Homo sapiens: one gene and its partner. The protein of the gene in region 1 interacts with the protein of each later gene in a pairwise test. Each region holds a gene or a part of one and is shown on either strand. Other genes may lie near its edges.

Region 1 (3,500 bases):
GGAGCACCTCCAGGCCTGGCAGGGTCTGCACCCACCTGTCTGGACTGGGGGGCTCTCTGGGTCTCTTTCCAGACCCCCTGCCCACCACCTCCCTGGGGCCTGGCTCCATGCCCCTCTCTGCATGCTCAGGCCCTTCCTCTCTTCCGGTCCATTTGAACATACTCAGGTCCTGTGCACCCCAGAGAGAGCGCCCACGCTGTGTCCTGGGCTGCCACCTGAGGCTGCTCCCCTCACTCACAATCCCTGCCCTCGCTCCTTCAGGCTCTGCCCACGACTCCAGTGAAGCTCCTTCTCCCTCCTGGAGCCCAGAGCCAGGGGTCAGAGAGGTCCCTGGGGTGGCCCTGTGAGGGTCACTCTCAGTCCTCAACCTCTCCAGCCTACAGTGACCTGAGGGGCCTCAGGGAGAGAATCCTCCTCTGCCTTTGAGGGCGTCTGTGCGTGGTATGGCCTGGACGGGGACTTAGGCTCCAGCCTGGCCACTGAGCCTCGACAGCCGGGAGATGGGGCCACTGGCGTGTGGGTTACAGGGCGCCCTGACCTGCACTGAGGACGTACCTGGGGGTGGAAGAGCAGCGGGGACGGCCGCAGGTACTTCTCCTTCAGGGCTCCCACGGGGTCTGTGACCTTCCGCTTTTCTACCCTGCTGGACAACAGCACAGAGGGTTACGTACCCCACCGAGCCGCCCGCCCCGCCGAGCCACCCGCTCCACAGAGCCGCCCACCCCGCCTGACCATATACCTGGCCAGTCACAAGGCCATGGTGTGGACCTCGCCGTGGCTGCCCCAACGCTCACCAGACTCCTCTGTGGGCCTTGGGGATGTCGGGAGCCCAGCCCACCTGCACCCCTAGACGGACCCTCCCTGTCACCACCTGCCCCTGAACACTCTCCCTCAGTGGTTCCCTCACACCTCCCATGCCTCCAAGGTCCCCTCGAGGGCCTTCAAAGACCCCTGGCTGCCAGCACCCCTGCAGGTCATGGGTGCTAAGTGCAGGCGGCTGGAGTTTTCTCTGAAGGCCCCGTGCACCCCGGCCTAACTGGCCGGTCAGCCCTGCATGAGTGGGGACCACTCTGAAGGGGGTCCCTGGACCTGCTCACAGCAGAGCGTGGCTCACACCAGAGGCTCAAGGCCTCCTCCGCTCCTTCTCTGACCCGGCCCCTGGCACGGGGTGTGCTGCCCGTGTGTGCTGATGAACGTGAGTGGCCAGCAGGTTTCTGTCCTGGGGAGGTCACCAGGGGCTTCCTGCAGCACCCAGACAGGGCCCTGTCTAAACACCCTCCAGGGCTGCTGGAGATTACAGTTCCAGAACCTTCCCCAGATGCCGGTGACAAGCCTGCTCACTGAATCACAATGCAAACCTCCTGTGGTAAACAGAGGCCGTGGGCAGGGCTATCCACTGACCCTCCTTTGGCCTGGTGGCTCTTGAAGGCAGCCTGCTCTTCTCTGTCTGCCTGGGTTCCCATAGTGAGGGTTAGATTTGGGAGCCTCTTTCCCATCACTGAGAGCGCTTTGGTAAACCTGCCACCCCGTTGCAAGACACAGCACCCCCAGCATGTCTATGACTGGCCGCTTTTGCTTTATTAGGACAGGACTTGCTCAGGGTCTCCTGCCTGTCTCCTTGCATGGCGAAGCGGGGAGCACAGGGACAGGTGCTGGTGGGGGTAGGACCCCCTCCCCAAGCCTAGCCCTGCTCTTCCAACCCACCTGCATTCTAGGGAGGGGCAAACCTGTCCAGAAATTAGGGAGTGGCATTAAACTCGCCTTTCCCCAAGAGAGGCATCAGAGACACAGGACACTGGTGCCTAGAAAACCCTCCAATGCTTGCTTCATCCCTCGCCTCCTCCTCCCCTCCAAGGACCACTGGCTCCTTCTCTGATTCCCCCGGGGCCCCCAGAAAGACACCCCCTCCCCATTCCCCCTGCCGCTGTGGCTCCAGGGGCAGGAGCGCACCAGGAGGGGCAGGAAGCACTCAGCCCAGGCCCCTCTGACTTCTGCAGGTAGAGGCTGGGGAGAGCTAGACCAGAGACGACAGCTGGAGAGAGGGGTGGGGAAGGGTGTGGGTTGGGGTGGGGGGTGGGGTTACTGGGGATAGGAGGCGCTCGAGGCCAGCAGTGTGATGTCTGAGTGGTCATCGGTGCAAGCAAACTGCACGTGTCCAGGAGCACCCGTCCTGGCCTCCCAAACACGGCCCGGGCCAGGCACCTAGCTTAGGAGCAGCCAAGCCAGGCATCCCTCCTGAGGGGTGCAGACCCCCCCAAGAACAGGGGCATCTTCCTGAAGTCAGCAAAGGCCGGGGGACGACCTTGGAGGAGCTTGAAAGAGACACCACCATGCACTGAGCCCGCCCAGCACCGCCGCGGCCCCGCCCCAGGGAGAGCCAGTGAGGCTGGGGTGCTGAATACCTGTAGATGGGGTCCATGAAGAAGGGCGAGGGCTTGGCGTAGTGGAGCGGGGGCTGCTGGGGCATCCGCGCCGGGCACACCTGGGGCAGCCCCTCGCCGGCGCCCAGCTTGCGTTCCCCATAGACGTGGTTCTTGCGGGGCTCCCGCCCGCCGCCGTTTTGGCTGGCACGGGCCCGGCTGCCGATGCTCAGGTCCAGCGGCTGCTCCTCGCCGGATGCGGGGGCCGAGGGGCCCTTGGGCATGGGCAGGATGGGCTTCACGTCTTTGGGCTTGGTGGTGAGATCAAAGGGGCACTCGGCACTGGGGCCGCCCACCTTGAGGGCGTCCCGGGGTGACTTTGGCTCGGCCTTGACCAGCAAGTTGTGGGCGAGGGCTCGGTCCGTGAAGGGGTAAAGGGAGTGGGGGAAGTTGGGCAGGAACTGGAAGGGGAACGCCGAGTGGTAGGGGAGCGAGCCCAGCTTCTTCTCCTGCATCCCCATGAAGCCGGGGCCAAAGTACTTCTCGGCAATGGATGCGATGGCCTTGATGGAGTCCCCGGCGGCGCCCGTTGCAGTCAGCAGCTGCTCGTCGGGTGGCGGGAAGAATGAGTGCTGGGAATAGAAGACAGGCACCTCGGCCACGCTGTTCGGGGCCCCCGGGGGCGCCAAGCCGCCCCCAAACTTGGGCTGGCCCTCGGCGGACTTGCCCTTGCCCTTGTCCTTGTCAGGGTCGCTGTCCACGTCGCTGTCCAGGTCCGAGCCCGTCCCCGTGGTCGTGTCCAGGTCGGTCCCCGTGGTGGTGTTGACGTCCTCAAAGTCACTGCCGTCCGACATGTCGCTGCTCCTGGTCTTCAGCTTCTCCACACAGGAGTCCTCCAGGCGGCTCTCGAACTTCTCCTCGGGCCCCGCAGCTGCCGTCGTGCCCTGGCTGCTGTTGCTGACGGCGGAGACCAGGGGCAGGGCTGGGTTCCCCAGGGGACTGGGGAGCTTGGCGTCCTGGGTGTGGTTCAGGGGGCTCTTGAGCAGCGATGTGGGAGGTAGCAGAGGCGGCCGGGGGTACAAGGATGGAGGGAAGATGCCCGGGAAGCCGGGGGTGAGTGCGGGGAACGTGGGAGGCGCC
Region 2 (3,500 bases), on another chromosome or scaffold:
CTAAAATGGAAAGATTATCCTGGATTATCTGGTGGGCTCAATGTAATCTTTTGAGCCCTTAAAAGCAGAGAAATATCTCCGTCTGGGATTATTCAGAGAGTTGCTGTGGAGGAAGTCAGAGAGGGTAGTGAGATTCAAAGTGTGTTAAGGGTATCTAGCTGGCTTTAAAGATGGAGGGGGCAAGGTGGCTCCTAGAAGGTGAAATTGACCAGCAGCCTGCAGGGAACAGGGACCTCAGTCCTTCAACTACCTGGAACTGGATTCTGTCAACACTCTGAATGGGCCTGAAAGTGGATTTTCCCCCGGAACCTCCAGATAAGAGCCCAGGTCAGCCAACCCCTTGATTTCGGCTTGTGAAACCAGAAGCAGAGAAACCCACTGAGCTTGCCAGGCCTCTGACTTACAGAACTGTGAGATAATAGATTTGTGTTGTTTTAAGCTGCTAAATTTATGGTAATTTGTTATAGCTGTGATAGAAAACTGATACCTAATATCAATTCATCCAAAAACGTATACAGGTGATTCTGTTTCGTAGGAGGAGAGTACTAAAATAAAACTAAATTCTTATTTTGCATGACAGGAAGTCAAAAGATTATATTTAAACCTTATATAAACCTAAAAATAGCAACATAAGCATCTGTAGAAATATGGCAGTAAATATTAAAAGAAACAGCTAGAAGTGTTATAAGTGATTGCTTTTAGAGAGCAGGAATTGGGAATGATGGGGCTGGGAGTGGGCTGATAATTTTTAAATTTTAACCTTGGAGAGAACCATATGGTGTTTAAATGCATGTTCCTGTGTTACTGCAATGAAAATGAAGAGGTCCCATCACTACCAATGTAAGATGTGCCCATCTCTCTAAGGGCCTGAGCAAGTGGGGTAGGGCCTGCCCCTGCCTGCCAGGGCATGTAGCATCCCCTCCTCTCTAATCACCAGGGTGGAGGAGAGCAACAGCAAGCTCCTGGAGTCAGAGAGGAAGCTGCAGGAGGAGCGACACCGCACCGTGGTGCTGGAGCAACATCTGGAGAAGATACGCCTGGAGCCAGGGAAGGCATCAGCCTCCCAGAGAGCAGCTCCCAGGACCAAAACAGGTAGGGGCCAGGGCAGTAGTCTCAGTGCAGGGGGTGGAGGCAGTGTTGCTGCTAACAGAGGAGCCAGGCAGCTGCACTGTTCAGCCCATCAGTGAGCATGTGGGAAGCAGAGCTTCCATCAGGGTGGAGCTCTGCCTGCCTCCACTGTGGGGTGTTCTTTTCCCCAGGCCTCTCAGTCAGAAGCAGGAGCCCCAGAGCTCCATTGCCTCGTGTGGCCCTGGCCTGGCCACCTGTAAGCCCTCAGCATGAGGTGGCAGTGCTGAATGCCCCCAGCCACCCTAGCCCTCAACCCTCTATCCTAAGCTGACTTCATTCAAAGTGGTCATGGGGCACAGCTGGTCTGCTGGGGAAGCCCAAGCAACAGTGGCTGAAGCAGGGGAGGAGTCCCTTTGTGCCTCCTGCAATGGTCAAGTTGATATAAGCAGGAAGTAGCCTCACCAGAGGTTTGGGGACCCAAGCTCCCTCTGTTTTGTGGCTCCACTGTTCTCAACATGCAGCTTCCATCTTCTGGTCTACAATGACTGCCTGAGCTTTCCCATCAGCAGCAGGAAGGGGAGAAGGGAAGGAGACAAACTTCTCCTTACCTTTTACGGTTGCATATGTCACTTCTGCTCTCATCCCATCAGCCAGACAGTTGGGCATAGCCAGGTGCAGAGGGAAGCTGGGAAATGCTATCCTTAACTGAAAAGTCTATCGCTCGAACACAGTGGTTCTCAAGGTGCAGTATTCAGATGAGCAGCATCAGCATCCTGTGGGGCTGGGGCGAGCTGGAGGATGCCAGAGCCAGAAGCCATTTCTGGGATGGCTGACTCCCAGGGAGGAAGGGTCTCCAATGTGGAGGGGCTGGGCCTGCCTCTGTCTGACCTCCCATCCCACCCATCCCAGCCCCCTCCAGGCTGGAATGCTGGAGGTGCTGCTGCCCCCACTGCACCCTCTTTCAACACCCCAGTAGCCCCCCAACCCCTCCCCAGCCAAGGATGGTCAGACCCTTGGTCTCAGTCCTCAGCCCAGATGAGGTCAGAACGTTTCAGAAGGGTGTGCCAGAAGTAGGGCATAAAGAGGGTGTTGGGGCCACTTGCTTTCTCTTCTCCCACCAGCAGGGCCAGGAGCTTCTGAGAATCCAGGCCGGGAAGGAAGGGTCTCTGGGGCTTAGCCTTGCTGACCCTCTTGGACTCTCAGGAATATGTTCCCTAGGAGTGTGGCTTCTCCAGGCTGGGGCTTACCTCCTGTAGGGCAGCAGGACTTCCAACCAGGGAGAGCTAAGCCACAGCAGGCAAGTCACTTTGTTCCCTGCTGGACAGTGAGGGCAGCTGCCTGAGGGAAAGTGTCCAGGTGGCCTCTGCTGCCTACTGGCTTTTAACATGGGCAAAATCCTGCCCCTCTGGTGAGCAGAGCACCACTTACCCGCCTCCCCCTGGCCCATCCGTAAAATGAGGAGGCTAGATTTATAATTCAGTCCCCCATGGCAGTCTCACTCCAGTAGGGGAGCTAGACATCTGAGCAGAGATGGAGGAACTGGGAGGGGATGTGGCCTGCCGATCCCTGAGGGAAAGACAAGTGTCGGTGCTTGGAAGCTTAGCTGGATGCTTGGAGGAACAGGGAGGAGGCAGGGAGGCTGGAGTGGTCCAATCACACAGGGCCTTGAGAGCCAAATAGAATTCACTGAGGCTGCCAAAGCTCTAGAGGCATAAACTATTATCCTTTTTTTCAGCTAAGGAAACCAGCTCAGAGAGGCTGATAGTTTGCCTGAGGCCTCTCAGCAGAGGGCGAAAGCCAGGTCTTCTGATACCAAGTAATTTACTGTGGGTCACACCACCTCTGAGGGCCTTTTCAGTCCCGAGGTTTTCTGATGCTGTGATTTTGCCCAAGTTCGCCACCACCAGTTGAGCTTTGTCTTTTTTTTTTTTTTTTTTTTGGAGACAGAGTCTCACTCTGTCCCTCAGGCTGGAATGCAGCGGTGCGATCTCAGCTCACTGCAACCTCCACCTCCCTGGTTCAAGCAATTCCCCTGCCTCAGCCTCCCAAGTAGCTAGGATTACAGGGGTTCGCCACCACACCCTGCTAATTTATGTATTTTTAGTAATGATGGTGTTTTACCATGTTGGCCGGGCTGGTCTTGAACTCCTGACCTCAAATTATCCACCCCCCTAGACCTCCCAAAGTGCTGGGATTATAGGCATGAGCCACCGCACCCGGCTGAGGCTCTTTTTGATTCCCTGTGTCACAGGGCTTAGAAAATTCCATCAGGCTGAACAAGCAGTTTCCCATCCAGGGCAGCTCTAGTTGGGGATGTGGAGGTGCTCAATGCGTGGAATAAGCCAAGGGCAGCTTAGCAGTGTCCCCTGGAGCCAGGAAAGGCCCTGAAGAACACTCAGTCCAGCCCCTGTAGAGGGCAGAGCCACTCTGCT

What was found.
Region 2: the proteins of PRDM16 (region 1) and CCDC13 interact in a two-hybrid assay, tested with the Homo sapiens proteins (one large-scale study listed by BioGRID).

Annotation. Positions count from the first base shown.
Region 1 is NC_000001.11:3,411,703-3,415,202, reverse strand, and holds part of PRDM16 (histone-lysine N-methyltransferase PRDM16), read right to left. Parts: coding exon 2,403-3,500; intron 644-2,402; coding exon 556-643; intron 1-555. UniProt on the Homo sapiens protein: Binds DNA and functions as a transcriptional regulator. Displays histone methyltransferase activity and monomethylates 'Lys-9' of histone H3 (H3K9me1) in vitro.
Region 2 is NC_000003.12:42,710,754-42,714,253, reverse strand, and holds part of CCDC13 (coiled-coil domain-containing protein 13), read left to right. Parts: intron 1-937; coding exon 938-1,092; intron 1,093-3,500. UniProt on the Homo sapiens protein: Required for primary cilia formation and promotes the localization of the ciliopathy protein BBS4 to both centriolar satellites and cilia.